3 linked regions of the Homo sapiens genome follow. The protein of the gene in region 1 purifies or fractionates together with the protein of each later gene. This does not show direct contact. Each region holds a gene or a part of one and is shown on either strand. Other genes may lie near its edges. The genes, in order: SMTNL2, NLN and SKP2.

Region 1 (3,751 bases):
TGAGACCTCATCTCAAAAAAAAAAATGTAGTCAGCCCATGTTAACTCTGGTTCTTGCTATGGAATGGCATTTAAAGTGATTTTTACTTTCTCCTTTGAACTTTCTGTTTGAATGATTGATTGATTGATTGATTGATTGATTGACACAAGATCACACTTTGTCTCCCAGGCTGGAATACAGTGGTGCAATCACAGCTCACTGTAGCCTCAGACTCCCAAGCTCAAGTGATCCTCCTGCCTCGGCCTCCCAAGTAGCTGGGACTACAGGCACACACCCCCACACTTGGCTATTTTTTTTTTTTTAGAGACGGGGTCTAACTATGTTGGCCAGGCTGGTCTCAAACTCCTGGCCTCAAGTGATCCTCCCGTCTCAGCCTCCCAAAGTGCTGGGATTACAGGCATGAACCACCGCACTTGGCCTGTTTGAATCATTAAAACAAACCTGTATCATTTTTACAAAAGCAGTTGTTGTTTTTTTTTTAATTTAAAAGGCAATTGGGACCTCTAATATTTGGAGACTCAAACATTTTTTATAAATGTCAATGCTGATCATCACTTTCTTTTTCTGCTGTCTCCCGAGTTTTGTCCAGCCTATGTCTGCAGCTTCCAGGAATCTTGCCATCATAGGTCAAATATCCCTTATCCAAAATGGCCTGGGACCAGAAGTGTTTTGGATTTTAGATTTTGGAATATTTGCATTATATAATACTTACCGGTTGAGCATCCCAAATTTAAAAAATCCAAAGGCTCAAAAATCTGAAACTTTTTGAGTGCCAGACACAATGCTGAAAGGAAATGCTCATTGGCGCATTTTGGATTCGGTATGATGAACCTGTGCCATTGAAGCTGGCACCATGTCTCTGAGGGAGAGTGCTCCCTTTGCAGGGACAATCTGGGGTGGAAGGCAGGTGCTTTTTTTTTTTTTTTTTTTTTTTTTTTTGAGATGGAGTTTCGTTCTTGTTGCCCAGGCTGGAGTGCAGTGGAATAATCTCAGCTCACTGCAACTTCCACCTCCTGGATTCAAGCGATTCTCCTGCCTCAGCCTCCCGAGTAGCTGGGATTACAGGCATGCGCCACCATGCCCAGCTAATTTTTGTATTTCTAGTAGAGATGGGGTTTCACCATGTTGGCCAGGCTGGTCTTGAACTCCTGACCTCAGGTGATCCTCTCGCCTCAGCCTCCCAAAGTGCTGGGATTACAGGCTTGAGCCACGGCACCTAGCTAATTTTTGTATTTTTAGTAGAGACGGGGTTTTGCCATGTTGCCCAGGCTGGTCACGAACTCCTGACCTCAGGTGATCCGTGGAAGGTGGGTGCCCTTGAAGGTCTGCTGTGAGCTGTGCTTCAAAGACAGAGAATGCTCTCTGCCTGTGGGAGGCGGAATTTGGAGCTCCCCAGGAAAAGAAGTGGGTGAAGAGCAAAGGTGGCAGGTGAAGAAAAGAGGGAGCCAGGAGACGGTGGTTGCGTGTTGCATATTGTGACCCCTCCCTGCTCCCCTAGGAACCCCTACACTCTCATGTACTCAACTTAGAAATAACAACAGTGGGGACCATATGGATCATGGCCCAGTGCCCTGGTTGCCTGCTGGGGAAGCCGGCGATCTGGACAGCGGAGGATGACACAGGGCATGGCATCCACTCCCATCCTGACTGCCACCCTGGACTTGAAGACTTGCCACCAGGGCAGGGGCCCACCAGGGGTCATTATCAGAGGGTAAACGCAGCCTCTAGAATGAGGAGGGGTCAGCTTGCTGTCTTCTGCAGAGGCTGGACAACACCCGGAAAATGCCGGCAATTCTGAGGGCCTCCTATGAAGTGGGTTAGGGAGTGGCAAGACCTGGTTCGGAGAGGTGGGTCCTGGGTATCCTTTGTGGGAACAGTTAAGGAACCAGAGCTGTTTAGTTCAGAGAAAGACATGGAAGGAAGGTTTTCTTCTGGCGTGTGAAGGGTTCTGACATGGGGGAAAAATCAGACTGAGAATAAGTAGCCTTATGGGGTCAGCAGGTAGAAAGTACACACAGGCACAAATAGCGTAAGAAATGTTAGAAGAACTTTCTCGTGGTCAGAGCATCTGCAGAGGGTTCTGAGCTGTCCTTGGAGGAAATTGGGTCCCCTTTCCCTGGACCCTGAGATGAACAAGCTGAGGCAGGGCCTTTATAGAGGTGATTGGTGCTTCTGACGGGGGTGTTTGGATGGTTGGAGGTCCTAGAGTCCTCATGCTGTCCCTACTTAACATGTGGCACCACTGAGGCCACCGCCGTCAGTGCTGATAACCAGAGCATGTGTGGAGCCTGTTTCTACACACCTGGGATCCTCCAAATAGCAGGTGTGGGAGTGGAGGTGCCCCAGCTGTGTGGCAGGTGGAAAGGAGGGCACCAGATATGAAATGATCGCTCAGGAAGGTGAACTCAGGTCCCCAGCCTCTCTGAACTCAGATTTTCTTTTCTTTCCTTTTTTTTCCCCTTGAGATAGAGTCTCACTCTGTCGCCCAGGCTGGAGTGCAGTGGCATGATCTTGGCTCACTGCAACCTCCGCCTCCCGAGTTCAAGTGATTCTCCTGCCTCAGCCTCCCGAGTAGCTGGGACTGCAGGCATACGCCACCACACCCAGCTAATTTTTGTATTTTTAGTAGAGACGGGGTTTCACCATGTTAGCCAGGATGGTCTCCAACTCCTGACCTCAAATGATCTGCCCACCTCAGCCTCTTAAAATGTTGGGATGACAGGCATGAGCCACCGCGCCCGGCCTGAACTCAGATTTTTCAATGCTTTATCATCGACAAAGCACCTTTGCACGCCTGCTCGCATCAGAGGGCCAGCTTCCCTGACATCGAGCCCTGCCCTGGCCTGTCCCAGGGAGAAAGGGTGCCCGCTCATTGGGCCAAACCCACTCATCACCCCACAAAGCCTGTTGGATTCACTTACAGGCCACCCGCTACAACTCCAAGCAGGAGGTGGGGAGGGGATCCAGGACAGATGCCTCCATTTCGCCTTGACATTTGGTTTCTGGTAGGAGGCCTGGCGTCCAGCCAGCACAGCAGAGCAGGGCCTGCGGGTAATGTTACAGTCTTGTCTCTGGAGCACACAGCCGCGTGAGTCCTGGTAGAAAGTGCTGAGTGCGTCGTGCCAAACTGGGATGGGTCAGAGGAGTCTTGCTCGCTCGCTGGGGTCTCCCCTCTGGCTGGGCTCTCTGGGGAACAAGATGCATAAAGACACATTGTGGAATCACAGCCTCACAACAGGCCCACTGGGAGGGACAGCAGAGGTGGTATTCTGATTTTTTTCTTTTTTTTTGAGACAGAGTCTCGCTCTGTCAGCAGGCTGGAGTGCAGTAGCACGATCTCGGCTCACTGCAACCTCCACCTCCTGGGTTCAAGCGATTCTCCAGCCTCAGTCTCCCAAGTAGCTGGGATTTCAGGCGTGCACCACCATGCCTGGCTAATTTTGTGTTTTTAGTAGAGACAGGGTTTCACCATGTTGGTCAGGCTGGTTTGGAACTCCTGGCCTCAGGCAATCTGCCCGCCTCGGCTTCCTAAAGTGCCGGGATTACAGGTGTGAGCCACCGTGCCCGGCCAGTATTCCGATTTTGTGCTAAGGAAATGGGCACAGAACAGTGAAGCAATGGGAGGAGTCGGGGTTTGAACTCTACTGTTTTGATCTCACATTCAGGCCTCTTCTCTGTGATCCACCCTGCTTCTTAAAGCAAGGCATGATCGTCAAAATGGCAACAAGAATAATCTCTGACTTTTTTGTTT
Region 2 (3,751 bases), on another chromosome or scaffold:
CCTTACAGATGATTTAAGCCAGAAGTTAAAACCCTTGGGTGAAGCAGAACGAGAGTTTATTTTGAATTTGAAGAAAAAGGAATGCAAAGACAGGGGTTTTGAATATGATGGGAAAATCAATGCCTGGGATCTATATTACTACATGACTCAGACAGAGGAACTCAAGTATTCCATAGACCAAGAGTTCCTCAAGGAATACTTCCCAATTGAGGTGGTCACTGAAGGCTTGCTGAACACCTACCAGGAGTTGTTGGGACTTTCATTTGAACAAATGACAGATGCTCATGTTTGGAACAAGAGTGTTACACTTTATACTGTGAAGGATAAAGCTACAGGAGAAGTATTGGGACAGTTCTATTTGGACCTCTATCCAAGGTACTGAGGATCACGTTGTTGGAAGGGACCTTAGGGATTCAGCTATGCCTACTTTAAGACTCTACTCTTGGCCAGGCACAGTGGCTCATGCCTGTAATCCCAACACTTTGGGAGGCCAAGGTGGGAGGATTGCTTGAGGCTAGGAGTTCGAGACCAGCCTGGGCAACATAGTGAGGCCCTGTCTCTACAAAAAATTTAAAAATTAGGTCAAGTGTGGTGGCTCATGCCTGTAGTCCCAGCACTTTGGGAGGCCGAGGCAGGTGGATTGCTTGAGTCTAGGACTTCAAGACCAGACTGGGCAACATGGCAAAACTCTGTTGCTACAAAAAATACAAAAATTAGCCAGGTGTAGTGGTACATGCCTATAGTCCCAGGTACTTGAGAGGCTGAGGTGGGAGGATCACTTGAGCCTCAGAGGTGGAGGCTGCAGTGAGCCAAGATTGCAACACTGCACTCCAGCCTGGGTGACAGAGTGAGACCCTGTCTCAAAAAAAAAAAAATGAAAAATTAGCCAGGTGTGGTGTGCACACCTGTAGTCCTAGCTGTGCTGAAGCAGGAGGATCACTTGAGTCCAGGAGTTTAAGGTTACAGTGAGCTATTATCACACTGCTGCATTCTAGCCTAGGTGACAGAGCTAGACCCTATCTCTAAAAAAATTAATTTAAAAAAAGACTCTACTCTTCCATATTTCTCACATGGGCTTCTTAGTATACAGATTTAAAATGTGGGTCTGAAGCCAGAATGTCTGGCATCATCATTTACTAGGTAGGTTACTTAATTTTTCTGTGCCCCAGTTTTCTTACCTATATTATAGGTCCTATAAACTGGGAATATTAGTAGTACCTGCTTTGTATGGTCACTGTAAGGATTAAATTGGTTGAATACATGCAAAGCATTTAGAAGACTGCTCAGCACATAGCAAAGGCTTAATCAGAGTTAGCTGCTACCATTGTCATTATCATCATCATCTAGTTTGTGCACTACATTTACTTAATTGAATATTGACCACCACCCAGACATGGTGGCTCACACCTGTAATCCCAGCATTTTGGAAGGCTGAGGTGGGCAGATCACTTGAGGTCGGGAGTTCAAGATCAGCCTGGCCAATATGGTGAAACCCTGTCTCTACTAAAAATACAAAAATTTAACAGGCATCTGTAGTCTCAGCTACTTGGGAGGCCAAGGTATGAGAATAGCTTGAACCCTGGAACTGAGATCACGCCACTATACTCCAGCCAGGGCGACAGAGCAAGATTCTAACTCAAAAAACATAAATAAATAAAATTGAGCACCAAAATATTTATTAGATAATCTGTCTGCCAATAATCTATGGCCACTCCCTTCAGTCTGGCTGAGAGGCAGCACAGTTTAGTAGAAGTAGCAAAACCTTTGCAGTCAGTCAGATTTGAGTTTGAATGCTTGAGTGACATAACCTCTTTGAGATTCTGTTTCTTCCTCTGTAATATGGGACTGGAAATCCTTTTACAGGATTGTTTTATGCATTAAAGACTATATGTGCAAATCATCTTCCCCAGATATCAGTGGTAACAATTATAAAAATGTTATAATTGTGTCTATAGCATGTAATAACTATAGATTCCATAGTGTTTCATCAGATACAAAAGGATTTGGATCTCTTTCTCCCCAGGCTACTTTCTAAAGCAAAGTCAACCTCTTACAATTACTAATCATTTAAATAGATCAAAGGAGAGTATAGTATCCCCCTCATTCAGTAATACACACAAGTTTGTAATCCACTGACTTTGAGTGCTGAAAAGTAGGTTGAGTAACTGTGTCATCTAGTTGGTGGGCAGAAGTGTCTTTTAGCACCTAAGTGATTATCCTGGTGTATTAGTCCTTTCTCACAGTGCTGTAAAGAACTGACTGAGACTGGGTAATTTATAAAGGAAAGAAGTTTAATTGACTTACAGTTCTGCAGGGCTGGGGAGACCTCAGGAAACTTACAATCATGGCAGAAGGGGAAACAAACACATCCTTCTTCACGTGGCGGCAGGAAGGGGAAGTGCCAAGCCAACAGGGGAAAGCCCCTTATGAAACCATCAGCTCTTGTGAGAACTCACTCACTATCATGAGACTGGCTACCCCATGAATCAATTACTTCCCACTGGGTCCCTCCCACGACACGTGGGGATTATGAGAACTACAATTCAAGATAAGCTTTGGGTGGAGACACAGCCAAATCACATCACCTGCTGCTTTATGGACTTACTTTCACTAATATTATGACCTAAAAGTAAAACCCTGCCAAATATAGATGAGTCTTATTTTTAAATAAAAAGTATCAGGATATAGTTTTAACCGAAGAACTCTTTCAGGAGTAATCCTTTAATATTGGAGTCTCCTATAACTGTCCTCAGATTTTCTTTCCAGCGTCAAATAACAATTCTTGCTACCTCATTCTGCTGTCTCACTGCCAGGATATAATTAATTTCTTTTGTACTGAGAGATCTGGTCATTGCTACCAGCACCCTGGTGTGGGTAACAGAGAGTAATCTTTGTGAAAGTAGTGACCTAGTTAATACTTACTTCCTGTCATCTTAAGATGTTCTCTTCATAAAGGTAAAAGGGATTAACTTGTTTTATTTGTCTAACTGACTTTTAAAAAGGGTATTCAGAATAGGTTTTAAAAAGACCAGGTACTGTCTGGGTGCAGTGGCTGTAATCCCAGCACTTTGGGAGGCTGAGGCAGGTGGATCACTTGAGGCCAGGAGTTCAAGACCAGCTTGGTCAACATGGTGAAACCCCATCTCTAGTAAAAATACAAAAATTAGGCTGTGCACAGTGACTCACACCTATAGTCCCAGCACTTTGGGAGGCCAAGGAGGGCAGATCACCTGAGGTCAGGAGTTTGAGACCAGCTTGGCCAACGTGGGAAAACCCCATCTCTACTAAAAATACAAAAATTAGCTGGGTGTGGTGGCAGGCACTTGTAGTCCCAGCTACTCTAGAGGCTGAGGCAGGAGAATCATTTGAACCCAGGAGGTGGACATTATAGTTAGCCAGTATCTTGCCACCGCACCCCAGCCTGGGCAACAGAGCAAGACTCCGTCTCAAAACAAGAGAACAAAATTAACCAGCGTGGTGTTGTATATATGTAATACCAGCTACTCAGGAGGCAGAGGCAGGAGAATTGCTTGAACCTGGGAGGCAGAGGTTGCAGTGAGCTGAGATCATGCCACTGCACTCCAGCCTGGATGACAGAGCAAGACTCTGTCTCAAAAAAAAAAAAATAAAAAGACCAGGTACTATTAGTCTTCTGAGCAAAAGAAAAGGGGGAAAGGACACGTACTCCCAAAATGAAGTCTGATAGCTTTTGGAGAATGAAGTCTAATAGCTTTTGGAAAGACCACACAGA
Region 3 (3,751 bases), on another chromosome or scaffold:
CCAAGGTAATTTAAGTATATTCATAAATTCTCCCATCTGGTTTCCTTTGCAGAAGGGTTGATAGATTGGTTGTTTAGTTGATTGGTTGGTTGCTCGCTTTGGCAGCACATATACTGAAACTGGAAATACAGAGAAGATTAGCATGGCCCCTGCGCAGGAAGACATGCGGATTCGAGATGCATTCCACTTTTAATTAAGAAAATAAATACGTTTGTTTTCAGCCTTTTCTTTAGGAAAGAGAACTTTGCCCAATTTATGGTCTGGGAATATACATCAGGAATTGGATTAGTTAGAAAAGCAGTAGAGGGTTGTAGTGAAGTCAGATCTGGGTTTGAATCCTCATTCTTGCGTTTATCAGCCTTGGAAAGTTATTCGAGCTTTCTTTGCCTTAGTTCCTTTATCTGTGAAATGGAGTGCTGTAATAATACCCACTTCACAGGTCGTCGTGAAGATTAAATGAGAATGACGTAAAACCCTTAGCATGCCACTGACACGTAACAATACATAAGCCAACAAAATTCCTGACACCAATTTTGGAGGCTAGTGGACTTTTATCTTTTGTTTTTAATATTGTTACTCTGACCCTGTTAGTATAAAATTTTTTTTCTTCAAAATTTAATGTTCACCGCTCTTCTTTGTGTCTGGAATGTAGCCCTAACAATCTGGTGCTTGACCAACCAAATATGGCGAAAGATACTTCCTGCTAAGATGAACAGATTTTTATTAACCTGTCCAGTGCCGATAGCTTTTGACATAGAGTGTGATTGCTATATGCCCTTCCACAAGTGAAAAAGAATTTTTTTTAAGCAAGGCACTGTGGGAACAAGACAGAAGTTTCCGGAGTCTTTGCTATTTCCCAGGAATTTGCAAGTCAAGTTGAGGAGAAAATACAATAAAAAATAAGAGCTGTGATTCCCATTCAGGTGGATGTGGAAGATCTTCCTCCTTCCACTCAGCAAGAAAGGAGATTCTGAGGAAAGAGAGGGCTCTGAAAATGGTGTAATCAGTGTCTTGATGGTTAAAGCTGACTTCAAAAGTATATATCTGAAGGGAGAGAGAAAGAATGGTGACTTTTATGTTTATTACCTAAGGAGAGGCACAGAGGGAAACCAATGTACGTGGACTTACAACAGAGATTGCTTAATTGGTGTGGAGTGGGGAAGGGTGAAATCAGTGATGCAGGATGAGGGACAGCTGGTATAGAGGATTCCCAATGGGCCTTTGGAAGCCTGGGCCTCCAGTGGAGCCGGATTGTCATTCCAAGGAGTTTTGTCTGCAGTTGTCAGGACAGGTGGCTACTAGCTTTGCCAGGATTAGGGTAGAACAGGCCACACCTGCTGTACATAGATATCTGATGACTGGTTCTGGGCTGCAAGTTTTTGTTGGTTCTTTGCTAAGCAGTTTCTCCCTGCAGGCCCCAGTCCAGCCGTACATCTGGCAACTAAATCCTCTTCATCCGTTTATCTGGGAAGATGAAAGCTCTGTGGCCAACCTGTACTAGAACAGGTCTGATTGGCCCTTGGAGTGAGTGTATGGAAAGAGTTGGGGAGGAAATGGCCCAGCAATGAGGTCAGTAACAGGCGGAAAGGGGACAATTGCATTTTATTTATGGTCATGAAATGCTTGTCCCCCACCCCACCCTTTAAACAGGTGATAGCCATGAAAATGGAGGTGAACTAATTTGTTGATCAGCTCTTCCATGACTCTTAAATGCTTGAAATTCCAGACCCTAAAGTGGTTGTCAGACTGGAGATACTAAAATTTACTGTATATCAGAATCCCCACAGGAACTTGTTCAAAGTGTAAAATTCCTGAGATTCTGATCCGGGGAGTCCTGGCCTGAGTGAGCCTGGGAATCTGTGTCTTAATACCCTTAGGCAAGCATTTTTTCCAACTTTTTTTTTTTAACCAGTAAGAAACATATTTTACATTGCAATCCTGGGTATGTATCTGAAACAGCAGTTTTACAAAACTGTATTTCCCCTTACTAAGATATTTTCTATTCTGTTCTAGTTCATTCTTTATATGTACATATATGCTAGTCAAACCCACTAAATTGATTTCATGATCTATGTGAGTCTCAGTCTACAGTTACTAAACTCAGCACTGGAAGAGCCTTTATGGGATCTTCCCAGTCATCTTTCTTTGTTCCATAGCTTCCTTTCATTCATCCATTAAGCAAATATTTCTCAAGCACCGTTTTAGAGGTTGGGACTACAATACTGAACATAACAGGCAAGAGACCCTGCCCTCATAGTGCTTATACACTGTTCCATATTTTTTCCAAATCCCAGCTTCTGTTGTTTCTTCATTACACCCCCTACACCTCAGGGTTGAGCAAGTCTTTCATAGAAATAAAGGGTTGTGGGACTGAAGGGGTACATGGGGGAATCCTTGTTAAGTTTGGCTGTGTTTTGTTTTTTTCAGTTTTGCCCACCTTAGCCAAAAAAACAAAAACACCCAAAGCCAACATGGCCTCAAATGTATTATTTATGGTTTGTGGGAAGAGGAAGGAGAACTCATCTGGGATGGCACAATCTGTTTGTAGTTCCCCAGAAAGAAAGCATGGGGTATTGCTACTTAAAACAAGCCAGCAAAAGCAATTCTGAGGTGAGCACCCCCCAACTCCCTGAAAGAAATGCACACACACACAAAAACAAGTATGAGTACCAGGTCCTCAGTATACATTTCTGCAAGTATAATCTGATTATGCTTAAAGAGCAGCAATTTTTTAAGTCAAAAGTTTGATTATGATTAGCATTACTTTGGATTTTCAGCTTGAATCTGAGTGGAGTGGAGTGATGTTCTGAGAAATAAATGAGTGGAGTGATATTCTGAGAAATAAATATGTCAAGTAAGATGAGTTACCTACACTGCAAAGATGGAATGCATAGAAAACTCTCCAACAAGGCCCTCTTCCCAGAGAATTTCAGGAAGCATGAGATGTGATAAGGTTACAGAAGTGGGAAACTGGGTTTGCACCTGAGAAATAATTGGAAACAGTGGTAGGTGAGGGTGATTGTAGTAGGTTTGCTGGTTTGGCCCAGTTTTTGCCCTTTCCTGGCCCTGAAGTATATTTAACTGCCGTCCATGTCATTGAAGACTGGAGACCTTGGGCTCAGTAATTATGTCTTTTAATGTGGGTCTGGTATGCAGCTACAGCCTTGCTGGATTTAGCAGAGACAAGTGGAGAAAAGACCTCTGGATTTTTCCTTCCGCTCTCTGCAAACAGACCAGGCAGCAGTTTCATCATGAATTCAGGAAACAGATGGCTAATGTTTTGAGAATTAAATATGGCAAGGAAAATTAGATTAAGCATATCACAGCCTGGATGCCTATTGCTAGAGCAGCTATTAAAGACAAACTTCTGCCCCATCTGCTGGGACAGCAGCCCATATCAGGCTGTGGTACCCCCACCCGGGGCCCCTAGGATTAGTGTCATTCTGTGGTCAGCTGAGTAAGAGCACTGGGTACTTGGCTGCTAGCTGAGTATGTGTGTTTTCTAGGACCTTGCTCCTTCCATTTGGTGGTGAACCCATTGATAGCATCTTTGTTTTATTTTCTCTCTCCTCCTCCACTCACTCCCTAGCCCTGATTGATTTCTGTTTCCATAGCAAGTCCGGGTTTAATTCTCACCTTTTCAAAATTTGTACTTACAACAGAGGAGAGCATAGAATATTAGAACCCACTAGGATGGAAAGGGCATGATTTGAAATCAGACCTGAGTTTAAATTCCCCCTCTGCCACTTAC

The links.
Region 2: the proteins of SMTNL2 (region 1) and NLN purify together in Homo sapiens (co-immunoprecipitation; 3 studies listed by BioGRID and IntAct, with this or other methods). This does not show direct contact.
Region 3: the proteins of SMTNL2 (region 1) and SKP2 purify together in Homo sapiens (co-immunoprecipitation; 3 studies listed by BioGRID and IntAct, with this or other methods). This does not show direct contact.

What each region holds. Positions count from the first base shown.
Region 1 is NC_000017.11:4,601,401-4,605,151, forward strand, and holds part of SMTNL2 (smoothelin-like protein 2), read left to right. Parts: intron 1-3,751.
Region 2 is NC_000005.10:65,788,110-65,791,860, forward strand, and holds part of NLN (neurolysin, mitochondrial), read left to right. Parts: intron 1-8; coding exon 9-375; intron 376-3,751. UniProt on the Homo sapiens protein: Hydrolyzes oligopeptides such as neurotensin, bradykinin and dynorphin A. Acts as a regulator of cannabinoid signaling pathway by mediating degradation of hemopressin, an antagonist peptide of the cannabinoid receptor CNR1.
Region 3 is NC_000005.10:36,155,030-36,158,780, forward strand, and holds part of SKP2 (S-phase kinase-associated protein 2), read left to right. Parts: intron 1-3,751. UniProt on the Homo sapiens protein: Substrate recognition component of a SCF (SKP1-CUL1-F-box protein) E3 ubiquitin-protein ligase complex which mediates the ubiquitination and subsequent proteasomal degradation of target proteins involved in cell cycle progression, signal transduction and transcription.